Homo sapiens: one gene and its partners. Changing the gene in region 3 together with the main gene of any one other region gives a genetic interaction. Each region holds a gene or a part of one and is shown on either strand. Other genes may lie near its edges.

Evidence for each region. Genes that interact genetically often act in the same process or in processes that back each other up.
Region 1: changes in SPPL3 (region 3) and MAGI2 together harm fitness less than expected from each alone (positive genetic interaction), as found in Homo sapiens cells (one large-scale study listed by BioGRID).
Region 2: changes in SPPL3 (region 3) and BICRA together harm fitness less than expected from each alone (positive genetic interaction), as found in Homo sapiens cells (one large-scale study listed by BioGRID).
Region 4: changes in SPPL3 (region 3) and SLC2A10 together harm fitness less than expected from each alone (positive genetic interaction), as found in Homo sapiens cells (one large-scale study listed by BioGRID).

Annotation. Positions count from the first base shown.
Region 1 is NC_000007.14:78,019,612-78,022,667, reverse strand, and holds part of MAGI2 (membrane-associated guanylate kinase, WW and PDZ domain-containing protein 2), read left to right. Parts: intron 1-2,691; coding exon 2,692-3,056. UniProt on the Homo sapiens protein: Seems to act as a scaffold molecule at synaptic junctions by assembling neurotransmitter receptors and cell adhesion proteins. Plays a role in nerve growth factor (NGF)-induced recruitment of RAPGEF2 to late endosomes and neurite outgrowth.
Region 2 is NC_000019.10:47,612,134-47,615,633, forward strand, and holds part of BICRA (BRD4-interacting chromatin-remodeling complex-associated protein), read left to right. Parts: intron 1-3,500. UniProt on the Homo sapiens protein: Component of SWI/SNF chromatin remodeling subcomplex GBAF that carries out key enzymatic activities, changing chromatin structure by altering DNA-histone contacts within a nucleosome in an ATP-dependent manner.
Region 3 is NC_000012.12:120,771,859-120,775,358, forward strand, and holds part of SPPL3 (signal peptide peptidase-like 3), read right to left. Parts: intron 1-3,500.
Region 4 is NC_000020.11:46,730,149-46,733,648, forward strand, and holds part of SLC2A10 (solute carrier family 2, facilitated glucose transporter member 10), read left to right. Parts: intron 1-3,500. UniProt on the Homo sapiens protein: Facilitative glucose transporter required for the development of the cardiovascular system.

The DNA of each region.
Region 1 (3,056 bases), on a different chromosome or scaffold from region 3:
GAAATAAATGCTAAGTCTTCTGCTTAAGGATAAGATCTGGTTCCTGTTGGTTGGCAGTGGCCACTGTTCTTGCCCATTTCACATACTTTAATCCTATTTGCAAGGTAACATCTTGGGACAGTTTCTAAGTAAAAAGAGTAAAGAAACCCAAATTTTTACTCCTAACTGGCCCATTTTGTAATCTTGGTCAAGTTAGTTAACCTCTCTCTACTTCAATTCCTCCTTCAGGAAATGGTGTGAGTAATATCAACCTTCTCCCCTTATCTAAGAAGTAATTTGAGGCCAGCTAATTAACTCTACCATATGTGATGTAATGATGGGGAAAAGAGCTATTAAAATGTGAAATATCATTACCATGGTCCAAGTCAGAGATCACTGTTGCACAAGCTACCCTCTAGTTAGGCCTTTTGAAGACCACTTTTTAACTCTTCTAAGCTGTATCTCGCTAGATGGGTGGATTGCCACCACTTATCATTTGTTAGTCTGATTTTAAACTCTAACCCACCCAAAAGTAGAACACATTCTCATTTTCATTGGATATATTTGCCTTTGAGGATTTCAGACTATTCCTTAAGGTAACCAAGGATACCTGAGGTGTAGCAAAATGACACCTGGGAATCACAGCACCTGGAAATGACTGCCTTATTGCACTTATTCAAAACCTCACCTGCAAAGGTACTAGTTAATGAGGCGGCTTCCACAGGAGCCCAATCCATAAGTAGGCAGCAGGTGGGGTACAGAAGAAAAATATGATTGACCCTCCCATTGCAAAGTGCTTTCCCTTAGAAAGTGTATGTCTCACATCTGTAAAGTTGGATATTTTATCCCCATCTTATAAAGGAAGAAATTGAGGCTCAGAGAGATTTAGTTGTTGGTCCAAAATCACGTCACCAGTAAATACATGCCAGAGCCAGGATTAGATTCCAGGACTTCTAGGATTTTACCATGTGAAAATGATAATGGACATCAGTGTATGGAAGAAGGAAGGTTAACATTATGCCCAAAATGTTCCATTCGAATTTCACATAGAATGAGAAACGTTTTTGATTTGCCATTCTAAAGATGGCCAGAATTATTGGGAAAACCATTGCCACTGCCCTTTTCCTCTCCTTATTGCTTTATAAATCAGTATCAAAGGTACTATATAAGAACCCTCAAGTTTCAAACAAAGTAGACCCTGGACATTAATGGACTGAGTATGCACAAGTATCACTGACAGCCTCTGACACGTTACAGAGGCAAGAGCTTGAATCACATGCACTGAGGTTGCTGTGTGGGACTGAATCTTTTAGCTAGTGAGGGAGGCTCACCTGGCACCCAGAATTCAAATCTATCAATGTGGTTTCTTCGTTCTCCACTCATGACCATATACCAATTCTGTGGAAGAAAAATTACACTCTAGAATATCACAAAATTTGAGCATTTCCAAGGTCATGAGACATATTTCTTACAAATATCAAGGATTCACAGTAATTGGATTTCCCTGCTTTCATTTCCCCTTAGTGGCCAGAAGCTCCAGGGAACTGTTGTTGCTCACAGTAGCAGCTAACTCATCTCAGATTCCTAATACATCTGTCCTTCTACTTGGCCTCTGACCAGCTGTTGCTTTAAAAAAAAAGTCATCTCTCATTTTAATCATTGTTTTATATGTGTTTTGATGTTGTCAATTGTCTTAAATCCTTTTTGGAAGTAGGTAACTTAAATCCTAAGTAAATGTTGGAACTAGACTTCCTAGAAAGAATTATCTTAGTCCTGGGGCCCTCCATAATGTTAGAAGTACTAAAAAGAATTAAGTTCCATCCGGACTTGGCAAAGAAAAAAAATGGAATTAAGGACGATTTTTTTTAAAAAATGATAGTTTTAAAATGTATTTATCCAAATTCTGAAACTGACAGCAGCTAGGAATATGCTTTGAGTGACACCTACTGGTTGAGAACGTCACTTCCCAACTTCCAGAGAACCCAGACCAGTGTTTCTCAAAGCTTGGCTCTAAACCAAGCTTGTCCAACCCGCCTCCAGCTTTGAATGTGACCCAACACAAATTTGTAAACTTTCTTAAAAGATTATGAGATTTATGCATGGACCTTTTTTTTTTGAGCCCATCAGCTATCGTTAGTGTATTTTATGTGTAGCCCAAGACAATTCTAATGTAGCCCAAAGAAGCCAAAAGATTGGACACCCCTGCTAGGCCACCTTTTTCAGAATGGGTGCCTGATAAAAATACAGAGGACTTCCTGGGCCCCGTGCTGCTGAAACCTCCGGGCCTGCTCCTCCCGGGGAATCTGTATTTTTCACCACCACCCTGGTGATTCCAAGGTCTACTCGAGTTGGAGACCCATTTATTCAAGGGCTGTCAAGTGAGCTGTCTATACAGGACTATCAGGCCCGAGAACACCCCCGGAAGTTAGCAGGGCCAAGGCGAAGGGATTAGGCCTGGGCTTCGCGTTGGCCTCCCCGGTCCACGGACGAGGTTCGGGGCGTGGGGGCTAAGCGGGGCGGAGGGAACCCCCAAATCCCCGGGGGCGCGGCCGCTGCCCTCTCGGCAGTGAGGGTGGGGGTGGGGGTGGGGGCGGCGGTGGCTCCGGCCCCTGAGAGCAATCGCCCCAGCTGCCTGCCCCTGTCCCCGGCGTAGAGAGGGCACGGGGACGTCCTGCGTGCGCCACTGCTAACGCCTGTGCTTCCCGTCCACAGACGAACCCGCCCCCTGGAGTTCTCCCGCTGCCGCCGCCCCAGGTCTGCCGGAAGTAGGCGTCTCCCTGGACGACGGCCTCGCTCCATTCTCTCCATCACATCCAGCCCCACCCTCCGACCCTTCCCACCAGATAAGCCCAGGCCCAACTTGGGATATCAAACGGGAACACGACGTTAGGAAACCAAAGGAGCTTTCAGCCTGCGGCCAGAAGAAGCAGCGCCTCGGGGAGCAGAGGGAGCGCTCGGCGAGTCCGCAGAGGGCCGCGCGGCCGAGGCTCGAGGAGGCGCCCGGCGGCCAGGGGCGGCCCGAGGCCGGCAGGCCCGCCTCGGAGGCCAGGGCGCCCGGGCTCGCGGCGGCAGACGCG
Region 2 (3,500 bases), on a different chromosome or scaffold from region 3:
GCCAGGTGCCATGGCTCACACCTGTAACCCCAACACTTGGGGAGACCGAGGCTGGAGGATTGCTTGAGCCCTGGATTTTAAGACCAGCCTAGGCAACACGGTGAGACCCTGTGTCTACAAAAAATGAAAAAATTAGTTGGGCATGGTGGCACTCACCTGTGGTCCTAGCTACTTGGGGGTGCTGAGGTGGGAGGATTGCTTGAGCCTAGGAGTTTGAAGCTGGGGTGAGCCGTGATTGTGCCACTGCTCTCAAGCCTGGGCAAGAGTGAGACCCTGTCTCAAAAAAAAAAAATAAATAAAATAAAAAATGTAAAGGTGAGTGGCAGAATACCTTTGCCCCAGAAGAATTCCCTGTGGTCTGGGAAGGCCACCTGCAAACGAACAATTCCCCTTCAGTGACACGCACCCTCTGAGCGCTTTGGGGACTAGGCCCCTACCCCTTCAGCACTTTACCCATGCGGAATACATGCTTAGCTGTAGGGGCTGGGGGGCTGAGGGAGAGGGGCTGGGGGGCTGACGGAGAGGGGCTGGACCCAGCTCACCCAGTGTAGGAGGTAATACAGGTGATCTTGCCATTTTACAGATGGGGAAACTGAGGCCAGGGGAAGCATGTTCCACGGCCGAGCTGGGACTCCAAGCCAGACGGCAGAGACTAGTGGTGGGGGTTCCGTATTTGTCAACAGAACTGGGGAGATGGTGCTTCATGGGGTCTGATCCCAGGAGCTTTAAGGGACCCCTTATCCCCGCAGCCACTGTCCCCTCCTTTAAGTGCAGTTATTTCCCTTGGCGAGATGACAGGCATAAGTAATAAGAATTCTCGGGGGAGGTGGGCAGGAGGAGAGGGGCTGTGGGGACACCCAGATCTCTCAAGATTGAGTGCTGGCTGAATGTAGGAACTGATCTTTTTGGGGGGCTGGTGGGAGAAGTCCGAGTGAGGCCCTAGAGGGTCTCCCGGCTGACTTCCTTCTCAGAGGCCTGTGGCCCTTCCCTAACCTTCCTTCAGGAGGTGGGGTGTGCCCCAGGCTGTGGAAGGGCCAGGGGATCAGCACCCAGAGGCCTATGAAGGGGGAGTTCCTGGGGGTGTATAAGGCTCCCCAGGTTCCCGTGGGCCACCTTGTAGCCCAGGTCTAGCCAGCAGCCCAGTTCCCCCGCCAGCTCTCAACCCCCACCCGCCAGGCTGCCTTGACTCCAGGTCTCAAGAATGCAGAAGGCTGCTGGTAGGGGAAGTTAATTGGAAACAGGAAAACATGGCATTCCTTTCCAGGCCGCCTGGGCTTGGAAGGCAGAGGGGCTGCCATTTCCCTTCTCCCGCCCTGCAGGGGAGAGGGGTGGGGAGTATGGTTATCTTGCCCTGGTCATATTTGAGCTTTCTTCCCCGACCAGGCACCCTCACTTAGTAGAAACAAGAGCAGTCACCCGTGCCGTGTCCACGATGACAACTGCTGCCTGCTCCCCCAGCAGAAGAATTGCCCCCTCCTTACTCACCCCTTCATATCCCTCTGGTTTTTTGTCCCCTGTCTTGTCTGAGCTAGCTCCCTGGTAGGATGCACCTTATGCCACACTAGAGACGCATGGGGAGCGTTTGGTTGAGGGGTCCCCAGGGAGTGTCTCCTGGTTCCGTCCCTCGCATTCTCCTCTGCCTGGAGTACCACCAGTAGAGTTTTGTCCCAGTTGACTGAAGCTTTTGTGTCTCAGTGACACGCAAGTTTCCCCAGTGGAGAGGGAGAGTTTTCTAAGGCATTTCTAGTTTGGTGACAATTAGTTTTGTGTATGAGTGTATGTATTCATTGGGGGGAGGGGGAAAGGAGTGTTGGCACAAGCAGAGAAGGCCTTTGTTTCTTTAATTGTTCCCAATTAAACTTCCTGAGGGCCTACTGTGTGACAGGGCCCTGGGGATCAGTTAAGACCTTGGGACACAGTCCAGGAGGAGGAGAGAGAACGGTTGGATTAGCCGCTGTGGGGTTTCATTCATTCTGTCTGGGTGGTCTGAGACATCATCTTTTTCTCTGTCTGCCTTTTGTTCCTTTTGTTCTAAGTGATACACACACGGGGCAAATTCAGAACACTAAAGATGGTGTCTCTCCCTCTAACCTCTCCAGAATCCCTGGTCCCCTAGCTCTCTTCCCCAGAGACAGCACCTCCATTCTGATGTTCTGTGCATGTACTTTTATATATGGATGTTATGTGTTTAAAACTATTCAGGCCGGGCATGGTGGCTCACGCCTGTAATCCCAGCACTTTGGGAGGCTGAAGTGGGCAGATCACCTGCGGTCAGGAGTTCAAGACCAGCCTGGCCAACATGGTGAAACCCCATCTCTCCTAAAAATACAAAAATGAGCTGGGCATGGTGGTGCATGGCTGTAATCCCAGCTACTCAGGAGCCTGAGGCAGGGGAATTGCTTGAATGCAGGAGGCGGAGGTTGCGGTGAGCCGAGATTGCGGTAGCACTGCACTCCACTCCAGCCTGGGCGACACAGCGAGACTCTGTCTAAAACAAACAAACAGACAAACAAAAAACTATTCATCTTACACAGATGGTAGTCTGGTCTATGCATTGCTTTTTTTCCACGCTTCATCTCCCTGGGAGACCCTACCAATGTAGGTCTTCCTCTATCTTTTTCTTGGCTGCATGGTATTCCTCTGTGTGGGTGAATCCTCCTTTACTGTTATGGACGTGGAGGTGTTTCCAAAGGTTTCTGTGTGAAGCATGGGAAGGCATACGTCCGCACATGTTACAGGGAAATGAGTACGCCTGTGGGATAGACTCCTGGAAGTGGGATTGCTAGATCAAGGGCCAGTGATTTGTCTTTTGGTAGCTCTTACGGAGCACCTTTGATGTTGCACGTTGCATCTTTTTTTATTTTTTTGAGACAGAATCTTGCTGTGTCACCCAGGCTGGAGTGCAGTGGCGCCATCACTTTTCACTGCAGCATTATCCTTCCTGGGCTCAAGTGAGCCTCGCATCTCAGCCTCCCCAGTAGCTGGGACTACAGGTGCACGCCACCACGCCCAGGGAGTTTTAATATTTTTGGTAAAGACGAGGTCTCACTGTGTTGCCCAGGCTGGTCTTGAAATCCTGTTCAAGCACTCCTCCCGCCTTGGCCTCCCAATGTGCTGGGATTACAGGCGTGAGCCACCGTGCCCGGCCCCTCATGCTGCACCTTGAAGAAAGTTGTTCTCTTTCTCTCCTCTTCAATGTGATCCCACCTGTCGCCCAGGCAGCATCTCCAGGCTGCACGTGTCTTTGCCTCAGGTGACCTCCTTGTGTCTGATGACCTCCTTGCCTCTTCCTCCTGCTTATGGCCTGCGTCATGTGCTTGCCACCTGGTGTGGAGGTCAGGAGCGTGGGCTCTGGGCCCTGCCTGTTGGTTCTAATCCCAGTTCTGCTATTTGCTGGCTGAATGGCTGTGGACAGGGGACTTGCTTGGGGCCTTGGTTTTCCCCTCTATTAAGTGGGTTCATATCAGTACCTACTTGGTAAGGCTCTTGTGAGGGTCCCC
Region 3 (3,500 bases):
AACACAATTTCCCGCTCTCCACACATACTGTGTTCTTTTCACGCTCTACCCAGAAGGTCCTGCCCCCGGCTCCTTCATATGGAAAATCCATCCTCATTCTGGAAGAGCCAGGTCAGGAGTCCTTTCTCAGAGTCTTTCCTGATCCAACCAGTCAGTTGCTGCTGCTCTTTTTTTGTTTTTTTGAGACAGAGTTTTGCTCGTTGCCCAGGCTGCAGTACAATGGTGCAATCTCAGCTTACTGCAGCTTCCACCTCCTGGGTTCAAGTGATTCTCCTGTCTCAGCCTCCCGAGTAGCCGGGATTACAGGCATCCATCACCACACCCAGCTAATTTTTGCATTTTTAGTAGAGACAGGGTTTCACCATGTTGGTCAGGCTGGTCTCAAACTCCTGACCTCAGGTGATCCACCCACCCCGGCCTCCCAAAGTGCTGGGATTACAGGCATGAGCCACCGCGCCCGGCCCAGTTGCTTCTTCTATGTGATGTGCCATAGAACGTTGAATGTCTCTCAACTCACTCATCCATTCTATGACCTTGTGAATATTTACATACTGGTAAGTTTATTCCCTGTGCTAGCTGACCACGTGCTCCTGGGAAACAGAAACCATGTCTGATTCTTTCTGTGGATCCCTAGCACTTGACAGAGTAGACATTCAATAAATACTTGCTGAATGAATGCAAAACTGTGTTCTATTAACTTCAAATTTCAAATTATTCTAAGGAAAGTAAAAAGCCATATGAACAGATATATTTCATTTTCATAGAACTGGTGGTAAATTGTCAATATATGTAATAAAGTGGATAAATACAGCAGCTTGGCAGACCCTGGACACATCAACTAAATTACTGTTTCATGGGTTCCTACTGTGTGCACGGTGCTAATATAAACACAGAGGAGAAAAAGCTGCCTCATCCCTACAACTCAGAGGAGTTGGAAAGACAGTATTCAACCTAGGAAGAGCAAAATATATATCTTCATCTCCACTATCATCACTGTTATCAAGCGCTCACTGAGTTACAGGGTGAGCTGCAGTGTGAGTTCTGGAGAGATGTGGTCAAGATCTAATTCCTGACTTTATAATCATATAGAATGTTTATTATACTAAGGTCTCCTTTAATTTTTAAATAAATTCATACAACCAACCTGGTAAAATGTATACAAATGCATGTCATTTGAAATGAACCTAATGAAATGTATTAGTCAGTGAGGCTTGACAAAGCTCAGAGCATTCAGAGCTGCAAAGGGATGACTGAAACATGATGTTTAGGACACTGAGAGATGTACCCAGAGCCCCTGCTCTGATCAACTCACACGCATATTTGAAAGGACAGGACCTCCCATGATCATCATCTTTAGGAAACAAAGATTTGGTTGTGTCATGAGTCAATAACCAGGACATTACCAGGGAGCAGCTCATCTGGCTGGAGGAACAACAGTGGTCAGCAGCAGGTGGGAAGCCCATCGGGCCAGAGCACAGGTGAGACACAGGTTTGTGTATAGATACTGGCTAGGGTGATCTGTTCATGGACTTACAGGTGAATACATGGAATGCAAGGCATCAAGGGCACGAAGAAAGTAACAGAAGGCCTAGGATGGACAGACGGGAGACAGGAGTCTGCGGGGAGTGAGGGTCAGAGGACTGAATGATGCAGCTCACCAGTAACCAAAAGCGGGGCAGGGAAACAGACTGAACAGAGAAGCAAGAGGCCAGGCTCCTCGGGGTAAGTTTATTCGCCTCTGTGACACATGTAGACGACCTGTCCCTTCCTGACCTTTTCTTTTTGGAGATGGAGTCTTGCTCTGTCGCCCACGCTGAGTGCAGTGGCACAAGCTTGGCTCACGGCAACCTGTGCCTCCCAGGTTCAAGTGACTCTCAAGTGACTACCAGCGCCCGCCACCATGCCCAACTAATTTTTGCATTTTTAATAGAGATGGGGTTTCACCATATTGGTCAGGCTGGTCTTGAACTACTAACTTCAGGTGATCCACCTGCCTCAGCCTCCCGAAGTGCTGGGATTACAGGCATGGGCCGCCGCGTCTGGCCCTTCCTGAACTTTTGTACTCAATTTGCCATAGAATCACTTCATCCTAACTGCGCAGGAGCCTTGAAAGGTCACAAGGTCTGAGCATCCACCTGCTGCTTTGTCATTCATCTCATGCTAATCCTCCTCCACCTGCGTCTAAACTAAACATGGAACAGACTGCTCAGTGACTGGGTTTTCCATGACTCCAGACAGTGTCATTCTATCCTAACCTTCCAAATAAGAAAGTCTGGGTTCATCTTCAACACATCACAGCCTCTCATCATACACATGAAATCTGCAGCCATTCTGAGGTGTTATCCTTTACTGTTACTGCAGACCTTGCTCACACCTCCACCCACTTCCTACTTTGCTGTGTCTCCTTTCCCTCCCTCCCTCTTACTCTTTCCCATGTACTGTTCACTGCCACTGTCAAACATCTGTTCACATAATTTCCTGCCTGAAGGTCACCAGGTTCCCTTCTCTATGACGAATCAAGTCTAATTATAAAGTTGCATAAACTCAGGAGGCACAACCTCCACAGAGTGGAGCTGAGCACCATGCTGGCTCTGCCTTGGCATCTGTCTGAACGGGTTCCTATTCCTCAGCCTATCCCTTCTCTCCATCTGCGTTAAGCTGAACACCCTCTTTCCAATTAGACCATCTAGGTCCTCCCCACTCTAGTCTAAGTTCCGTGTATGAAGAGGCAGAAGGCATCCTTTTGACTGTCTCAGAGAAGGCTCTTAGAGGCATGTGGAATAAATACCACTCTGACCCAGCGAACACTGCCACAAGCAATGTCGTATTCCCAGAACATGCTCTCAATCTAGTTTGCCTGCCTTTCATTCTGTCATTCAAGTAACCCTTAAAAAATCTTACCTCCTCCTCAGGGCTTTTCAAGGCTAAAGTGAAGGGAGGTGCTCTCTTTCCCTTGCGGCTTTAGACACTCCTGAGACTCTCTCTTATAGGTTTACCAACACACTTAACTTTTGGTTAAATGTACATTAACCAAAAGTGTTGGGGGAAGTAAATGATTAATCTTAGCCATTTAGCTAGAGTTATTTTCAATTTATCACTGATATCTCTGTATTACATTGTCTTCTACAACCAGTGAGTCAGGGACAAAGACAGTGACACCAAACCGAGCTCAAATGTTCTCTACGAGGATGACATAACCTGTAAGGTTTCTAAGCAGTGCTCACATTCGCGATACAGGCTCTCTAGATATCTATGCCCTATGTGGAGTCAGCGCACCAAGAGTGTAGCATTTTATTTATTTATTTATTTAGAGGCAGAGTCTCACTCTGTTGCCCAGGTTGGAGTGCAGTGGTGCAATCTCAGCTCACTGCAACCCCTGCCTTCCAGGTTCAAGTGATTCTCCTGCCTCAGCCTCCCAAGTAGCTGGGACTACAGGTGCATGCCAGCACACCTTGGTTAATTTTTTTATTTTTAGTAGAGATGGGGTTTCACCATGTTGG
Region 4 (3,500 bases), on a different chromosome or scaffold from region 3:
TTTAAACATTGCACGCAAAACGCTTGTGGGCTTCATGCATTCATTCCGTGGCTATTTATTAAGTCCTTACTCTGTGCCAGACAGTGTTCAGAGCCTTAGGAAACATGCTGAGATTAAGGAAGACAAAGTGCCTGTCCTCAAGAGCTTCCATTTGATGGGGGAGGGAAGCCAACAAATGCATAAACAAGAGCGTTTTAGTTGGTGATGAGTAATTAGGAGAAAATGAAGCAGAGCAAAATATGTTGAGAGGGCCAGGTTGACACAGGAGGAACAAAGAAGAAAGGGGTTGTGGCTGAAGTAGAGTGGGTGGTGAGGGAGGGAAGTCGTCTCAGAGGAGGTGGAATTTAAGTTAGTGAGAAGGAGGCACCCACGTAATGATGAGGGGAGGAGCATTCTAAGCAGAAGGAACAGCAAGTGCAAAGGCCCTGAGGTGGGCATGTATCTGGCATGTGCAAGGAACAACAAGGAAGCCAGTGTGCCTGGAACAGAGGGAGGAAGGGAAGAGCGTGGAGGGTCAGACAGGCCAGATGGGTAGGATCACATCAGGTCTTCAGGTTATTGAGGGGAGTTCAGAATCTTAGCATCATGAGACCTTAGGCTGTTCAAATAAAAGAAGAGTGAAATGGGAGCTTCAGAAGGAACTTCAAAGTGCTACAGTCCTAAGCATCCTTGGCAAATATCCCCAGTTACCTCTTAAAAGCAGGTGATAGTCACCAGCTCCTGACTGCCCATTCTGTTTCTGGGAAGTCATAAAACGTTTTAAAAAATCATTCTATTATTGACTAGCATCCCTGCACTGGCTGCTAAGCCCCACCCCAATCTGGATCCTAATGTAAGAACCTGTGACCCAGTCCTCCCCACCCCAGAATGTTCTCTCCTACTTTGTTGAGTGGAACCTTCTGCAGTTTCGGCAGGCGCCTCAGCAACCCAGCTGTATTAGTTAGGAAATCGATTTGGCTGCTTGAAGTCGTCCAAATGTCGGTTGGGGGTCCAGGGTTGGGTGGATGCAGCATGCCATGAGCTCATGTAGGGTCCCAGGCTCCTTCTGTCTTGTTGCTCTGCCACCTCTTCCATATCACCTTTCCTGCATGGCCTAAGGAGGTGCACCCCCACATACCTGCCAGAGGATGGGGGAGGGGAAGGGGTGGGCACAGTCCTCAAGGTCACTTCCACCCACATGACTTTCCATAGAACTTGGCTACACCTATATGCAGGGGAGGCCAAGAAATGTGGTCTTCAATCTGGGCAGCCATGTGCCCAGCTAAAAATCGAGGGTTCTGTTACTAGACAGCTGCCTGGCATCTCTGCCACACTGGTTTTCTTGGGAGAAGATTCCAAATCCATCCTCTGGGATAAAAAGCAACGGAGGCAGAAACGCTGGTGGGAGCCAGCTTTGGGGTAAGGCAGGATGTGACTGCAGCTGCGGGGTGTCAGCCTGGACCTGGGGTTACATGGGGGGAGCCAAGGCCAGCCCTTGGGGACTGGAGGCTGGGTCTGCTATGACTCTGGAGAAGACAGGAAGTTAGGGGTTTTTGTGGAGTCCAGAGGCAGGTCTGTGTTTTATCATCTCTGTCCCTAGAGTTCAGGGGGCTCTTGATATCAGAGGCCACAGAGAGAGAGAGAAACTCGACTTTAGGAACACAGGGACCAGGGCATGTCCAGGGATTTTGACAGCAGGAACTAATGGGATAGTCTTTTCAGCAGCAACTATTTTCACTCCTGTGTCCTCCATACAAGAGCCATGGTCCCAGGAGAAAGTCTGATTGGCCAAGGCTGGTTTATGTGCCCACCTCCTAACCCCTAACTTAGCCAGGATAGGGCAGAGATCCTTGATTGACAGTCCAGTCAAGCCACATGCCACGTTCCCCAAAAATGGGAGGCAGATGCCGGTAGAGCCGTCACCCACTGCTGTAGGGCTGACTTATTCTGCATCCCTGTGCCTCAGATGTGCTTGTTGGAAATGGGGACCTACATCTTATGGATCCAGCTCCTCTACCTGCTTTAAGGACACATTAGTAATACAAGGGGCTCAAATCGTCTTACATCAATCAATGGCAATTGGTTGCCGAAATGTTGTTTATTTTGCCTTCTTATCAGGTTATTTCTGCTCAAAAGAGACCTTTACCAATCCCTCAGGGGATATAACAAAAAAAATTCAAAAATTCCTGTTTTATCCCAGTTTCTCAGGAATCGATTCATTCAACTTTCAGCAAATATTTTCAAGTGCCGGGCACTGTAGTAGGCTCTGGGGACAGACCCATGACCGGGAGAGACCCTGTCTCTGGACTTAGAAGGAAGTTACATTTTAATGTATAGGAGAGAGATAGACTACAAAACTCAAAAATGCACAAATAAGATAATTCAGAGTTTTTATATCATGAAGAAAATAAGGCAGGTTAACCTACCAGGGGGTGAACAGCAGATTTGGGAAATGGATAGTTTCTTTAGCTAGGGTGCAAACAGCTATGGGTGCATTTGTGTTACAAGTGTATCAGGAATTTTCAACAAGCACGGTGATATTTTTGTGTATCGGTTTCACTCACTGCCCTGTTTCCAGGGCCTAGAACAGTGCCTGGCACTGTCATCTTTAATCATATCTCTGGCTGAATGAATGATGCTCAAGGAAGGCTGCTCTGAGCTGAGACTGGAATTACAAGAAAAAGTCAATGGTTTCTAGAGCTGGAAGAAATGTTCAAGCAGAAGAAACAGTTTCAAGAGCTGGAAGAAATGTTCTAGGTGGAGGGAACAGCAAGAGCAAAGGCCCGGAGGTGGAAACAAGTTAGGAGTTTTGAAGGGAGAGACAGGAGGCCTATGTGGCCAAGGCGTGATGAGCAAATGGGACTGGAGGGGTTGGTGTGGGGGAGGGCAGCCATGGTGAGAAGATGGGATGTTAGGCTGAGCATGATGATGGTCTCCTTCTGAGCAGATGTATTAGTCCATTCTCACATTGCTATGAAGAAATACTGGGTAATTTATAAAGAAAAGAGGTTTAATTGGCTCACAGTTCTGCACTCTGTACAGGAAGAATGATGCTGTTGTCTGCTTAGCTTCCAGGGAGGCCTCAGGAAACTTACGATCATGGCGGAAGGCGAAGGGCAGCCAGCACATCTTCCATGGCGGGAGCAGGGGGTGGTGCTGCACACTTTTAAATCACCAGATTTCATGAGAACGAACTCACCATCTCAAGGACACTACCAAAAGGGATGGTGTTAAACCATTCATGAGAAGCTGCCCCCATGATCCAATCACCTCCCATCAGGCCCCACCTCCAACACGGAATTACAATTGAACATGAGATTTTGGTGGGGACACAGATCCAAACCATATCAGTGGAGAGTGACAGATTTTTGCGTTTAGGAAGGTCATTGTAGATGCAATGGTGACAAGGGGCTATAGGAGGCCAGGGAAGACCCAGGGAGACCAGGGAGGAGCTGCTAGGGGGTCCAGGTGAGAGAAGGTGGACATTTGTAATAAGGCAGGAGGCAGGAAGGGTCATGGTA